4 linked regions of the Homo sapiens genome follow. The protein of the gene in region 1 purifies or fractionates together with the protein of each later gene. This does not show direct contact. Each region holds a gene or a part of one and is shown on either strand. Other genes may lie near its edges.

Region 1 (4,279 bases):
AAAAGAACTAGCACACCTAAACTCAGAGGTATATACCAAGGATGGGGAAAAAAAACATCTTACTGGTAAGAGTGGTTCTCTTACACACTCAAAGGAGAGGGGCATTAGATGGGCAATTACTCACCTCCCAGACTTCAGTTTTTATGTCTGCACAGTAAAAAGATTATGTGTTTTCAAAGTGTAAAGAAGAATGTGGGAAATTATTAAATGTATAGTTGAGTTCACCATTTTTACAGTATTGTATATGTTGCAGTTTAGCGTCTCAATGCTCACACTCATACAACTATCTTTTTTTTTTTTTCAGAGACAGGGTCTCACTCTGTTACCCAGGCTGGAGTGCAGTGGCGTGATCATAGTTCACTGCAGCCTCAATCTCCTTCCTAGGTTTAAGCGATCCTCCTGCCTCAGCCTCCAAAGTTGCTGGGACTACAGGTGGGCACCATCACACCTGGCTAATTTTCTTAGTTTTTGTAGAAACAGGGTCTTGCTATGTTAACCAGTCTGGTCTTAAATTCCTGGCCTTAAGAGATAGATCCTCCTGCCTCAGCCTCCCAAAGCCCTAGGATTATGGGCATGAGCCACTGCACCCAGCCACAAGTATCTTTTTTATCCCACATTATCTCATACGAAGCCATTTACTTGAACCTCATAAATCCTTTTTATTCATTAATTCATCCGTCTTCCTGTAATTTTTATCTCTTCTTAAATTATCTCATTACCACAGGCATAAAATACTTGGCATTTATCTGTAAATATCTCTCATTTTATTCCAGGGTTTCCAAAACCACATTCTTCCTCCCTGTTTTTGGACATGTTCCAAAGACAACTAGTTTTCAAGATAAAAATCTTTCCCTCTTCTACCAAAGGATTTATAATCAAGTTAATGGTCACTGCAGTGACATGACATTAACACTGATGAACAGAGCACAAATCAGAACCTTAAACAATGAACAAGGCAGTTGATCCTGACAGCTAGAAAGCAGCAAGATACTGTTGACTTAACTTTTATAAAAGTATTGTTTCCGGGTCACCTTCTTAGGCAGAGACTCGAAATCAAACACTAATAGAAGAATGGTGTCATTCAAGAGACAAGCCAGGTATGGAATCTAAGACCCTCCACTTAAAAGTAGCTTCTCTGAATCTCAATTTCTGTTTTTTTTTTTGTTTTTTTTTTTTTGACAGAGTCTGAGGCCGGGCGCAGTGGCTCACGCCTGTAATTACAGCGCTTTGGGAGGCCAAGGCAGGCGGACCACGAGGTCAGGAGATCCAGATCATCATGGCCAATATGGTGAAACCCCGTCCCTACTAAAAATCCAAAAATTAGCCTGGCGTGGTGGCGGGCGCCTGTAGTCCCAGCTACTCGGGAGGCTGAGGCAGGAGAATCACTTGAACCCGGGAGGCGGAGGTTGCAGTGAGCCGAGATGGTGCCACGGCACTCCAGCCTGGGCGACAAGAACAAAAACTCAGTCTCAAAAAAAAAAAAGACAGAGTCTGGCTCTGTCACCCAGGCTGGAGTGCAGTGGTGTGATCTCGGCTCACTGCAACCTCCGCCTCCCAGGTTCAAGCGATTCTCCTGCCTCAGCCTCCCGAGTAGCTGGGATTACAGGCATGCGCCACGACGCCCAGCTAATCTTTGTATTTTTAGTAGAGACGGGGTTTCACCATGTTGGCCAGGCTGGTCTTGAACTCCTGACCTCAAGGAATCCACAGGCCTCGGCCTCCCAAAGTGCTGGGATTACAGGCATGAGACACCGCGCCCAACCCGAAGCTCAATTTCCTCATGTATTAATTAAATGAGATAATTTATATGGAGTTCTTAGTATAGAGCCTAGTATCCAAGAAACATCAAACAAACTGAAAAGAAATCATTTAAGCACCAAAGCACTGAAGACATTCCCTTCAACAACTGTTATATATATTTATGTATGTATAAATTTGTGTAAAGGTAGAAATAAACCGGTGGACAAAAAGATAACAACTGAATGATTTTGCTCACCCCAGGAACCACTCCTCCCTATAAACTATAAACTTTTCAGTAAGAGTTACCACGAGATAGCCTACCATCTTACATTTCAAAAAAACACTAAAAACTCCGGGGACACATTCCCATTATCTCCTGTCAAAACTGAGAATAAACAGAACACACCCTGCGAAGAATAAGGAGGGAATGACGAATAATTTGACCAAATTCCTTGACTGAGTTCATGCTAGTTACCAGAAAACAAAACCAGTCACTCACTGAGACCACGCTTCTTCTCTGACCTCTATACATCCTTTCCAAAGAGCTTCCTTCCCCACCTACCTGAAAAGCATCCCCTCTCCCCTGGTCCGAACGACAAGCCCTTTTCTGATCAAGTCAGAATCTCCCAGACCCACGGCCGGAGGACAGGCGGGCGAGGAGCACAAAAGCCTCTGCCGCATGGATCGGGGCCGGGCCGCAGGGTCCCCCGGGGGTCCTTCTCCTCCCCATCCACCCCATCGCAGCCTCCCCGTGACGGCCGGGACCCCAGGCCCGGGCCCAGGGAGGAGAAGGAGGGGGCGAGCGGCCGACCCTGCCTGGGCGCCCCACCCAAGGGGGGCCGCCACCTACATCTCCCCACCGCCCTCCCGACCCGGGAAGCCCCTCGGATTGGACCCGCCCCCGCCCCAGCAGGTCTTCGGCCCCACGCATCACCGCTTGCGCACCCGAGATCCGCAGTGGTCGCCGCTCTCCAGCCCCGGCTCCGCTCGCCGGGTCAGCTTGGCTCCGCTGCCCGCCTCCCCCGCCGCCAGCTCACCCCTGGCGGTGCGACCAGGGTTTCCGGACGCCCACGTGACCCTCCCGTCGCGGGGCACGCTGGGAGTTGTAGTCCCGCCACGCGGCCTCACCTGCCGGCGCGGAGGAGGGCGAGGAGGGCGGAGGCTGGGAGCCCACAGAACTCTGCTGCTGCGGACCTGGCCAGTAATGTTAGCTGCAAAAGACGAGAGGTAGAGAGAAGAAATGATATGGGGAGAACTGGTGCATCCTTTTTTTTTTTTTTTTTTTTTTTTTTTCAAAAAAGCGGTATTCGGTCTTTGTTTTTATAAAAAGTAACGTGCTGCTAAGTGTGCTACTGACCGGCCTAAATTTTAGGTGTCTAATTAAATGCAGGCCGGGCACAGTGGGCTCACGCCTGTAATCCAACACTTTAGGAGGTCGAGAAGGGAGGATCACTTGAACCCAGTAGTTCAAGACCAGCCTTAGCAACATAGCCAGACCCCATCTCTACAAAAAATGTTAAAATTAGCCAGGAGTAGTGGCATGTGCCTGTGGTCCCTGCTACTGGGGCGACCGAGGTGCGAGGATCGCTTGAGCCCAAAAGTTTGAGGCTGGCAGCTGTGATTGCTCCACTGCACCAGCCTGGGCAACAGAACGAGACCCTGCCTCCAAAAAAAAAAAATCCAACACAAGTGTCTCACACCTGTAATCCTAACACTTTGGGAGGCCGAAGTAGGAGCATCATTTGAGAACAAGAGTTTGAGACCAGCCTGGGCAAGGTAGTGAGAGCCGCCCCCCATCCACCACCACCACCGCCGCCACCGTTTCTTAAATAAAGGGAAAAAATACAGACACTTGTTCGAATTTTAAAGAAAAAAAACTTCTCTTAATCCAGAAAATCTCCACAACAACCATTACATACCTGTTCTCAAGATAAACAATCACTAGTCTTCAAATAACAGAACTTGACAACACCTTTTGTCAAACATAGTTCCTCCTTACTTAATAGTAGTAATTGGGGAGACCACTCATGTTGGCTTTATCCAGAAGCAAAACAAACTTCGCATAACTTTTTGTTGTTGTTGTTCGTTTTTTAAACTTCGCATATCTTTTTGTTTGTTTGTTTTTTGTTTTTGAGACGGAGTCTTGCTCTGTTACCCAGGCTGGAGTGCAGTGGCGTGATCTCAGCTCACTGCAAGCTCCGCCTCCCGGGTTCAAGGGATTCTCCTGCCTCAGCCTCCCGAATAGCTGGGACTACAGGCGCCCGCCACCACGCCTGGCTAATTTTTTTGTATTTTTAGTAGAGACGGGGTTTCACCGTGTTAGCCAGGATGGTCTCGATCTCCTGACCTCGTGATCTGCCCTCCTTGGCCTCCCAAAGTTCTAGCATTACAGGTGTGAGCCACCGCAGCCGGCCAAAGTTCGCATATCTTTATAGCAGGAGGTAGTTTTACAAATTGGAGCAAGGCGCCCATACCCACTAATTTAGTCTCTTACCCTCATGTAGGAACTGGAAGATACAGGCACTAACTCACGTCTGAA
Region 2 (4,171 bases), on another chromosome or scaffold:
AGTTCTGCTACTTAATATTCGTTTAACATATATTTATTAAAGACCTACAAATGAACAAACTGCTCTAAATGCTGGGGGGACAGAAAAGGACAAAACAAAGACACTGCCCTCAAGGAGCTTATAATCTAGTAGGGTAGACAAGCAGAAGAATGAAGGAAATTTTCATTTAATGGTAAGTTCCAGGAAAAAAGTGACAACTTCTGATCCTGTTTCCTCATGGGGATGTAGCTACCTACTTAAAATAAGATCGTAAGTGTCAACCACCAAGCACACAGCAATCCCAAGCATTTACCTGACTATGGATACACATGCACAGACACTCTCATATACACACTTTCCCCCATAATTGCAACATCTGTGATAATGCACATTGGTATAAAATGCAAGCAGAGGGGAAACAAAATATTTATATGTCAATTACACTTAATGCAATTACAAATAACTGCATTCATTAGGAATCTATAAAAAGGCAAAACCTAAACAATTAGTTATAATACTAAAGTATAATTAGAAGGGTCCAGATACTGGAATAATAGTAGTGGTAGTATAAACAGTATTATAAATAGTCACATAGCTGCCTTGTCCATATAACCTGACGGCACAGTATCAGAAGCCAAGTTTAAACCCTTAACTTCAGATTACTTTGGGGTCGGGGACGAAAAAGGACAATGACCAAGTCTATCTTGGAATCATAGGCCATTGCGCCTAGAATTAACGTTAGGAAACCCTCTCTACCCTTTCCTCACATTACCAAAGAGAAGACTGAGGTTCCCAGAGGTAAAGGGTTAATCCCAACGTGGAGTAGCCAGTGACTGACAGAGCCAGAGTAGGACCCAAGGCTCCTGGTTATGGCCCTGCATGCTTCACCCTCAAGGACCTGCGCCCTCTAGCCTGGCTTTAGATTTTATGAGAACCACAAGGGACTGCAGTGTCTTCCAGCCGTTATTAATTGTCCCTAATCACTTCCAATCAGCTGCACCTAGAGCAAATTGAGGGCCTTTGCTGGTGACCAGAGAGCTCTCTTTATGCACAACAGGGGAGGGCGCCTTTCATGACAAAGCTGCCTCCAACACCATAAACTACCTTATTGGGGAAATGATGCGGCTAGCCCGAAAGGGGGAAGAGATTTTTCAAATTATAATTTTCAGAGTTTGCCTCAGGAAAAAGGCGCCAAACAATTAGTTTCAGGGAGAGAGGTGGCGTGATGAGGTGTGGCACGGGGAAGGGAAAGGGGTTTAGAACTGTGTCCAAGCTATTTAGGAGAGAAAGGGGAGAGTCCCGGGGCTGTGAAAGGGGCGAGGAGGAGAGAGCAGCTGGGCCAGGGCGAGCGTTTGACCACACCCACTAGCCACTCCCTCCCAGCTGCCCGCAGAGCCACATCGAATCGAAACAGCAGTGGCAGCGGCTAAGATTCCGAAGGCAGGAGTCGCCATGGCAACGGGATTCATCTTGCAGGCAACTCCGCTTCGATTCACTGGGTCCTGCTCGAATCTCAAGAAACTACCAGCAAAACGGTCACGGTGGCATTTGCTCTTGATGCTCTCCAGAAAGTGGAGATGAAGGAGAGGGGAATGGAGTTCAGGCATCACTAAATATGTTATGGGGCGAGAGGTAGCTCCGCAAAGCCAGGCCGTGAACAACTTGAGACCTTAGCAGGGTTTGATGAATGAGTAAACGAACAAATGAAGGTACTAGGAAAGGCAAAGAACATCCAGAGGACTGAGAGCTCTGGGCCTCCTGCACGTCTCCACTCAGAGGGCAAGCCGATCACAAGCAGTTGGCTTTCAGAACCAGCTGGGTAAACCCGATTATCCAGCCCTCCTGCCCCACAGCGAGCCTAATCATTAGATTATCCGACACCTCCACCCCCGCGCTACCACCTCCTGGCCCAGGGCTTCAGGGCAGGCGCTTCGCCCCAGCCCAGGTGCTCTACACCAAGGGACCGTGGAGACTGAGATGCGCCCTCCCGAGAGGGACGGGCGGCAAAAGCCCTCTGCGGTGCCTCACAACCGGGTCCGCAGGCGGCGCAGCCTCCCCGGCCGCCAACACCCTGCTCTCCCTCCGCAACGCCCGATTTCCCTTCTCTCTGTTTTGAAACATTTAGGTCCAACTTAGTCTGAATTACAGGCGCTCCGTCCCTTTCGAATGGGGCTGGAAGTGAGGGTGCCAGGGGCACTGGGGGCTCTGCTCGGACGCGAACGGGTACACGAGTCCCTCCTTCCCTGTCGCCACCGCCGTGTCCACCAAGCCTGCCTCGGGGTTCTCCCTCTCGGAGCCGCCGGGCCGGGAGCTCGCGGACGCCGCTGCAGTACCCGCGGCCCCAGCCCCGGGGAGCCTTCAGCAAGGCGGCGAGTGTTACCCCGCCAGCTCCTCGGCCAGCCGGGCGCCTTAGAAAGAAAGGGAGGGACCCCAGTCCTTGGGGGCGTCTTCCTCCCTGCTGCCTCGGTTTGCGTTGCGCTGCAGCCATTTTCCCACCCCCAGCTAGGCAGCCGAGAGCTGTCTCGGTCCCGTTCCCACCCAGACCCAACCTGAAGGACGGGTTTAATATTTACCTACTGGCCCGGGAGCTCCGGGGAGGCAGCAGGAGGGCGCGCCGCGAACCCAGCGCCCAGCCCACGGAAGCACGCCCACCCCCGCACCACTGAGCAGTGCCACTTAATGAATGAGTGCGGCGGGCAAGGAGGAGCGTCCCCCTTACCTGAGCAGCCCCTGCATGCTGGAAAGGCGGCTCTGCACTCTGGGTACAATGGGATCCGGTTAAACAGTTTCCTTCACAGCCGCTCGTAGGTTACTAACTCGCAGGTGACATCACCCTCTCCTCGCCTGATAGGATACAAAGTGGCTCCCACTGCGCATGGACGCTCCGGTCGGGCGCGCAGACTCCTGGGAGTAGTGGTCCCAATCTATTAGCGGAGCCGGGACAGCTTTGCTGTCGGGACTCGCGGAACTACATCTCCCGACACACTCCTCCGCCCTTCTGCCCCGCCTCTTATTCCCGCCCCCTTCAGGACCCGCCCCCTCCCAGCCTTACAGCCTTGCAGTGTTAGCGGTGGTCGTTCCGAAGCCGAGCTGCGGACCGCACGGGAGAGTGGGAGGGCTGCCCTGCGGTCGTGTGTGTTGACTTGACCTCTACTTTGCCCGGCGCGGGCTCTGAAGGATCGGAGAGGTCCGGGGCTCGCGTGGTCCGGCCAGGCTCGCTCTAACTGGTCTTTCTTGGTCCCTGCTGGGAAGGGACGATTAAGACTTTTCTGCCTTCCCCAGGCGTAGCAGCTAATTCAGAGGGCTTACTGTTTTCTGGGTTAAATACGGTCCTCGAATTCTCCCCGCTCAACACTTCCAGAGGATGGGGCGACGCCGGTCCCAAGGCGGAGGAATCTCCTTGTACCCCCTCAATTCACCTTTCTCTTTTCTGCTTCCCGTTTAACGGAGACAAGGTGACCAGGCAGAACGCGGGGAACCACTTAGTCGGCTGAGCTGACAGAATAACGGAGGTTGTCACTACCAGAAGTGCGGTGTGATAGACTAGACAGTCGCCGCAACCCTCCGTCAGGGCGCCTGCTGCTGCTGCAAAGATAATACTATCGTGCAGCCATGCTTTTGTTCATCCCTGCAGCAGACTTCCCGCGCTGGTGGCTCTCCACTCCCAGGAAGAAAACGTCCTTGTCTAAAGTTTTAATAATTGTGTATCTATGTATACACATGTTTTTAAATCCACAACACTCTCACCTCATTTTCCATACCTTTTCAAATATTTTTATAAAGACATTAAACCAAACAACATCGTGCCGTTCAAGAATTGCCCTGCTCTTAACACACCTAAATATTTATTTAAAGGTAAGCAAAAGGTGTGTAGCAGAATTCTGACCCTTTAGGCAGGTTGTATTGTTAATACATAATTTTTTCCGTGGCATTTTTCATTATTCAGTGAATACCAAGTGTCTTTTAATATGAAAAGAATCAATGCATTTAGTTACTCGAGTTGTAAATGTAAATTTTAATGGCATTTGATGTGTCTCAATTCCATATAATGATCAGCTCACACACCCGTTCCACTAGCAAAATCTCTAGAAGACTGTGCATCTTGTGAAAAAAAGGTTCACAATTAAGATTTCAGACAACTCCCTACTGAAGTGTTGGTGGAACTCTTATCATTTATTTTCTCCTTTCATTC
Region 3 (3,500 bases), on another chromosome or scaffold:
TTTTTTTATTTTTATTTTTGTAGAGACAGAGTCACACTATGTTGCCCAGATTGATCTTGAACTCCTGGGCTCAAGTGATCCTCTAGCCTCAGACTCCCCAAAGTGCTGGGATTACAGGCACAAGCCACCACACCTAGCCTATAAAACAATCTTTAATATGCACTTTTTAACAGCTGCATATTTTCCTCTGGATATTAATTTATTCAACTAACCCTGTTATTTCTGCATATTTGGGTTGCTTCTCCTTTTTTTATTATAAACATCCTTTCATATAAAGCTTTAAGTACCTATGAAAACATCCATAGGATAAATTTGTAGAATTAATGAGTCAATGAATAAAAACAATTTTAAGACTTCTGCAGCACACTTCTATTGGCATTTATTTCGAAACTGCCTTAAAATCACTCTCTAATTGTTATCCAACGGATTCCCTGAAGTCTAAGTAGTTTATCAAGACTCTCTCATTAGTCTGCCTCTTGTTTTTCCAGGTCATAAAGTCTATTACCAAAATTAAGAATCCATGTTTCTGGCCCGGCACGGTGGCTCACGCCTGTAATCCCAGAACTTTGGAAGGCCAAGGCGGGCGGATCACAAGGTCAGGAGATCGAGACCATCCTGACTAACATGGTGAAACCCTGTCTCTACAAAAAATACAAAAAATTGGTCGGGCGTAGTGGCATGCACCTGTTGTCCCAGCTACTCGGGAGGCTGAGGCAGGAGAATTGCTTGAACCCGGGAGGCAGAGGTTGCAGTGAGCCAAGATCTCGCCACCGCTCTCCGCCCTGGACAACAAAGCAAGACTCCGTCTCAAAAAAAAAAAAAAAAATCTATGTTTCTGAGGGTTCTCTTTTGAAGTAATCATCTTTTATATGAAGAAATGGCTAGCAACAACTTAATTTGCAAACTGAGCATTTTGATCTTAAAGCAATTATTAGTTTTTATACAAATAAAATATACTTGACTCAGTTATTTTAAGTTACATGGATCCCAGAAAGACAACATGAAAAGTAGAAACATTTGTATTACGTCAAACGCTCTGTAAGACAATATCACAGAACTTTAAACTTTTAATATGAATTTGTGACCAACAACCATGTAATTGTTCAAACAACTTCAAATACCTTATTTTACTTACCAGTTGTATAGCTATCATGAGAACTGTTTTAAGAGAAAATGTTCTGTCACACAAGTCAAACAAGTCTTCCAAACTAGGTCCCAGCAGTTCCAGCACCATAGCATTGTATTTACCACAAGGGCCGAAATAGTAAACTTGAGGTATACCATCTGGGGGAAAAGAAATACTCATTTAATAATTTCATCATCTTAAATACTAAGGTTTTCCTCTTAAAAACTGATATTTAAAATTTTATAGTTTCAAGAACTAAAGCAGTACTATCACTTTTTCCAGATACATACTTTTCCTGACCAAACCTCCCAACCTCCCAATACCTTCTCTTTGATGTTCACATTGTAGCCTGGATACACCTCTATTGCAGCTGCATGACTGAATTACATTATAAACAGTACTTCATTGTTTCTCTCTACCACCTTATTACTGGACAAAAGCTGGGCTTTTTAGCTTTATATTTCCATGGCCTGGAGAAAGGCTTAGCACATAGGAGAGATTCCAGTTCTACTGAAAAGAGAGTCACTACTGGCTTTAATAACCATGTGATAGGCATACTGCTAAGATCACCACTGTCAAGATTCCCATCCTCTGGCTTATACACCTTGTATAAACCCCTCCCTTTGAACGTGAGCATGATTCCTGGGATCTCACTATTGTGACCAGGCTAACTTATACGGCAAATGTAATTAAGGCTCCTATCAGTTGACTGTAAGTTGATCAGAAGGAAGAGAATCCTGGTGGACCTGACCTATTCAGGTGAGACTTTAAAAAGATAGTCTAGAAGTCAGAGATATTGGAAACAGCAGAGAAACTCTCCTGCTGGCCTTAAAGTAGCAAACCACCATGCAGTGGAGGGAGCCACATGCCAGATAGGAATCCTTGAGGAAGTAAGGGCCACACAGTTCTATTGCCATGAGGAATTGAATTCTGACAAGAATCAGTGAACTTGGAAGAGAGCACTGAGGCTCATGTAAGATTGCAGTCCAGGCTTACACCTTAATTTCCACATGGTAAGACTCTAAACAGAAGACCCAGCAAAGCCATGCCCGTATTCCTGACCCATAGAAATTGTGAGATAATAAAGTCTTTCATCTTAAGCCAGTAAGAGATAGTAATAATTCATTATGAAGCTATATAGAATAATACAAACTCCAAATATGAAGTCTGAATAATACAAACTCCAAATATGAAGTCATCTGTATTTTATTTTCAGAACTAACAGACTCCCAATAAACTGAAATGTAAGTGATCAATTTACTTTATATGGAAGTTGTCAGAATCAAAACAGAGTCACTTGTATTAAAACCCTGACAAACAGAGCTAGGGAAGGAGATGAAGGGAGGGTTCTCACACATATATATATATATGCCTGATAAGAAGAACTACCACAAAAGACTGCAAAAACCACAACCTGGAACAAAAGCCACCACAACTTTACAAAAAATTACTCTGTGAGGACATCTGCCCAGGAACTGCCTGTCCAACTTCAGACTGAGGCCATTCTTGTTAATGATCCTTGTAGCCAAGGGTAACTCTCTCAAAACAACTTATGTGACCCTCCTCATTTTTCCTTTAAAAACTCTTGTCTTCCTTTACCTCCCTGAATATACTCACATATATTCCCATTGTAATGCCCACTCGTAAATAACTATCATTTTCTTTTAGACAAGTCTCCCTATTATTTAGTTTGACACTTAACACTGCATTTATCTATTAGCATGAAAAAATGAACTTCTTCCACCACAAATGTCTCAGTTTTACTTCCAAGTGATTTTTTTTCAGTATATTGAAAGAGAAAACAAATCTAATGAAAACTTCTCATTCTTTTTAATAAAACGTTTTTTAAATATAACATTATTATTATTTACCCTATTATTTTGAATATAAATCATTGCAGGACAGAATAGAAAACACTGAACTAAAAACCAAGAAAACTACATTCTTAGTCTAACCTAATATTCATCAGCTGTGTGGCTAGCTTGTCATTCAACCTCTCAAGTGGGCCTCAGTTTACTTATCTATTATAATATTAGTGATTTGGATGAGACAAGTATTTCTCAGATATGAATATGAGTGAGGCAGCAGAACATCTGCAGGTGGGAATGTAAGCTAGTGTAATCACTGTAGTCCCAGCTACTCGGGAGGCTGAGGTAGGAGAATCACTTGAACCCAGGAGGCGGAGATTGCAGTGAGCCGGGACTGCGCCACTGCACTCCAGCCTGGGCGACAGAGCAAGACTCCTTCTCAAAAAAACAAAACAAAACAAAACAAACAAACAAAAAAAGATAGTGTAATCATAGCAGGAATGGATACAAATTCAAACTGCATACATGGTGCCCTCCCCAGAAACAGAGATTCTGATACACCCCAA
Region 4 (3,500 bases), on another chromosome or scaffold:
AAACACTGTTGAGTGAGGAAAAAATTAGATTTAATTCCAATTACGGTCTGTTGCTTCCGTGCCATGTGGGCTCCTGAACAGGTCACAAATAAAGAAGCAATAGTGGTAGAGATATCATTCAGAGTACCACTATTTCCCAAGATGTCAGGTGGATGAATACGATAAGTGTCTTTGCTTCATTAAGGCAACACCTGAAGAATAAAATGTGCTAGTGTCATGTTGGAAAACAGGAACCACAAAAGTGGCCCCTGTAGCCATAAAAAAGAAATCACGTTCTTTGCAGCAACATGGATGGAGCTGGAGGCCATTATCCTGAGCAAACTAACGCAGAAACAGAAGATCAAAAACCACATGTTCTCATTTTTAAGTGGGAGCTAAACAATGGGTACACACGGACATAAAGATAGAAGTAACAGACACTGGGGACTCCTAAAGGGGAGAGGCTAGAGTTGAAAAATTATCTGTCTGGTGTAATGCTCACTATTTGGGTAATGGGTACATTAGAAGCCCAATCTCCACCACTACGCATGTGCCTATGTAACACACCTGCACATGTACCCCCTGAATCTAAAATACATTAAAACTTGAAAATAAATAAATAAATATCACCTTAAAAAAAAAAAAAAAGTGACTCCTAATCCTACTACTGGCAATCTAGTGGCAGAGACAGGTGAAACCTTTCACCCACTCATAAAACAGGAGGCCCAATTATTTAAACTGAGAATTAAAGTAAGATTGATGTGTTCCTTTAACAGAGATGTCTGAATGAGGGATATTCATACTAGTTTGACCCAACAGGAAGAAAGTACATTTTGGAAGGAGACCCAGTTCTTTTATAATCACAGGAAATATTTCCTCACCTTTCACAGCAGATGGAGGTATAAAGAAAACAACATTGTATTTATAAAAGCTAAGCACAGTGTGGCAAAAATGGTCTCACACATGTACATCTCTGGGCTTTAAAGCATCATTCATCTTAGTTTTAGTAGCTTTCATAATTTAGTTACTTCTTAGATCAAAAAAATATATAATTCACAACCCTGCAGAGACAGACATCTGCTCTTACCTGTAACAAGCAATCCAGGGTTCCTGTGTAGCCAGAACATCTGCCATCTCGAAGCACTCTCTGATTCATCATACGTGTCCTCACAACATCAACAGGGTTTGAGGCCAGGGCCCCTGCCAGACCACAGGTGAAGCTTGAGCTATAAAGACACCATTGGAAAAAAAAAAAAAAGTTAACCATCACTGAGCTACAACCACCATCAAAGGCAGAAAACAGCTTCTGCCCAAACTATGGGGTTTTCTTGTTTGTGGTTTTCGTGTTTTGTTTTGTTTTGTTTTGTTTTTGAGACGAAGTCTTGCTCTGTTGCCCAGGCTGGAGTGCAATGGTGTGACCTTGGCTCACTGCAACCTCTGCCTCCCAAGTTCAAGCGATTCTCCTGCCTCAGCCTCCCAAGTAGCTGGGATTTCAGGTGTACTCTACCACATCCAGCTAATTTTTTTTGTATTTTTATTAGAGACGGGGTTTCGCCATGTTGGCCAGGCTGATCTCAGACTCTTGACCTCAAGTGATCTGCCCACCTCGGCCTCCCAAAGTGCTGGGATTACAGGCATGAGCCACCATGCCCAGCCCCAAAACTATGTTGAACTAACATGTATCAACATGAAACATGTCAAGAAGAGCCATATCTAGAGAGCTTGATAAACTGCTTACATATTAGCACCGATTATACTAGCTGATAAATCCCAGCGACAGCTAAGAATACCTGACATTCTAGAATGTCAAAGGATCATAAAACATAAAGGAAATCCTCCAAGGATGATCTTTTCCATCTATTTACCTGTAAGTGGACATCAGAGTAATTCTAGCCATATCATAATTATATCATTTCCTAGATATCAAAGAAAAAGATCTCCTTACTATAATGCCCCGCAAAGGTCTTAGGTTCTGCTATATTTTCAGTCCCACAAGACTACCACAGACCATACTTTATATCAATTAACCCAGAGCAAAGTTTCTCAACCTCAGCACTAGCTATATCCCTGGCCTGGCCCCACTAGATGTCAGTAGTATTCCCCCCTGGTTGTGACAATCAGAACAGTCTCCACACATTGCCCACCAATGGATTATGTATGATTATATATATATATATATATACACACACACACACACACACACACACACACACATATGAATGATAATATATATGTATGATATATCCATACAATGTGATAATCTGCAGCTATTAAAAATAAATGAAGGCCAGGCCGGCAATGGCTGACACCTGTAATCCCAGCACTTTGGGAGGCTGAGGCGGGTGGATCACTTAAGTCTAGGAGTTCAAGACCAGCCTGGGTGACATGGCAAAACCTCAGCTCTACAAAAAATACAAAAATTAACCGGGTGTGGTGGCATGCGCCGGCAGTCCCAGCTACTTGGAAGGCTGAGGCAGGAGGATCACTTGAGCCCAGGAGGTAGAGGTTGCAGTGAGCCGAGATCACACCACTGCACTCCAGCCTGGGTAACAGTGAGACCCCGTCTCACATAAATAAATAAATAAAGTCCGTAAGTACTGACACGAAGTCTGTAAGCACTCAAAGATATTTGGAATATGTTGTTAAATCGCATTTTATTTTAGAGACAGGGTCTTTCTCTGTTGCCCAGGCTAGGGTTCCGTCGCCCAGTCAAGGCTCACTGCAGCCTCACCTTCCTGAGCTCAGGCAATCCTCCTGCCTCAGTCTCCCATGTTGCTGGGACCATAGCCATGCACCACCATGCCCAGCTAATTTTTTAATTTTTTGTAGAAATGGGGCCTCATTTTGTTGCCCAAGCTGGTCTTGAATTCCTAGGCTCAAGTGATCCTCCTGCCTCGGCCTTCCAAAGTCCTAAGATTACAGGCGTGAACTACTGTGCCCAGCCTGTTGTTACATTCTAAAAAGCAAATAAAAGAATGTAAAACATGATCTTATTTGTGTAATAAAGTTCATATAATACACTTTTGTAGACATATTTGCATACACGTAGAAAACGCCTGGAAGATACATATCAAACTGTTAACAACAGCTGCCTATGTAGAGGAATAAGGACTTCTACCTGGTCCTGCTTCACTTCTGCATTGCAACTTTTCAAATATAAGAATATAATACTTTTATAATAAACTTTCTTTAGAATTTCTATAATTTTTTAAAAAAAGCCATGAACATACAGGAAGTGGGTATACACAGTGTCTCCCATCAGGCCTGAGAGAATAAGATGCTTCTTGGTGATGTCATAGACCGGCAGCTCCACACCAACAACAATAGCAGCCCTCTGCGCAGTAAGGGACACACCCTGGGTAAAAATATTAACAATAAAAATGATTCTGATATGCCTCTGTAGAACAAGCCTTGCAAATGTGCAAAGGTTCTAATCCATAAACTATGATCAAGGTTTATCTTTTCCTCTGGGGAGGCAGAAATGTAGAGTGACAGAGCGGAAAAGATCACAGAGCAAGAAC

Evidence for each region. Proteins that work in one complex are often made in the same cells at the same time.
Region 2: the proteins of SLC37A3 (region 1) and DAAM1 purify together in Homo sapiens (affinity purification with mass spectrometry; 3 studies listed by BioGRID and IntAct, with this or other methods). This does not show direct contact.
Region 3: the proteins of SLC37A3 (region 1) and CSNK1G3 purify together in Homo sapiens (affinity purification with mass spectrometry; 2 studies listed by BioGRID and IntAct, with this or other methods). This does not show direct contact.
Region 4: the proteins of SLC37A3 (region 1) and SLC25A30 purify together in Homo sapiens (affinity purification with mass spectrometry; 2 studies listed by BioGRID and IntAct, with this or other methods). This does not show direct contact.

The regions. Positions count from the first base shown.
Region 1 is NC_000007.14:140,395,731-140,400,009, forward strand, and holds the start of SLC37A3 (sugar phosphate exchanger 3), read right to left. Parts: upstream 2,801-4,279; 5' UTR 2,686-2,800; intron 1-2,685. UniProt on the Homo sapiens protein: Unlike the other SLC37 members, lacks glucose-6-phosphate antiporter activity.
Region 2 is NC_000014.9:59,187,296-59,191,466, reverse strand, and holds the start of DAAM1 (disheveled-associated activator of morphogenesis 1), read right to left. Parts: upstream 2,801-4,171; 5' UTR 2,699-2,800; exon of another isoform or gene 2,553-2,698; intron 1-2,552. UniProt on the Homo sapiens protein: Binds to disheveled (Dvl) and Rho, and mediates Wnt-induced Dvl-Rho complex formation. May play a role as a scaffolding protein to recruit Rho-GDP and Rho-GEF, thereby enhancing Rho-GTP formation. Can direct nucleation and elongation of new actin filaments.
Region 3 is NC_000005.10:123,571,177-123,574,676, reverse strand, and holds part of CSNK1G3 (casein kinase I isoform gamma-3), read right to left. Parts: intron 1,285-3,500; coding exon 1,136-1,284; intron 1-1,135. UniProt on the Homo sapiens protein: Serine/threonine-protein kinase. Casein kinases are operationally defined by their preferential utilization of acidic proteins such as caseins as substrates. It can phosphorylate a large number of proteins. Participates in Wnt signaling.
Region 4 is NC_000013.11:45,397,874-45,401,373, forward strand, and holds part of SLC25A30 (kidney mitochondrial carrier protein 1), read right to left. Parts: intron 3,335-3,500; coding exon 3,210-3,334; intron 1,206-3,209; coding exon 1,067-1,205; intron 192-1,066; coding exon of another isoform or gene 180-191; exon of another isoform or gene 14-179; intron 1-13. UniProt on the Homo sapiens protein: Antiporter that transports inorganic anions (sulfate, sulfite, thiosulfate and phosphate) and, to a lesser extent, a variety of dicarboxylates (e.g. malonate, malate and citramalate) and, even more so, aspartate.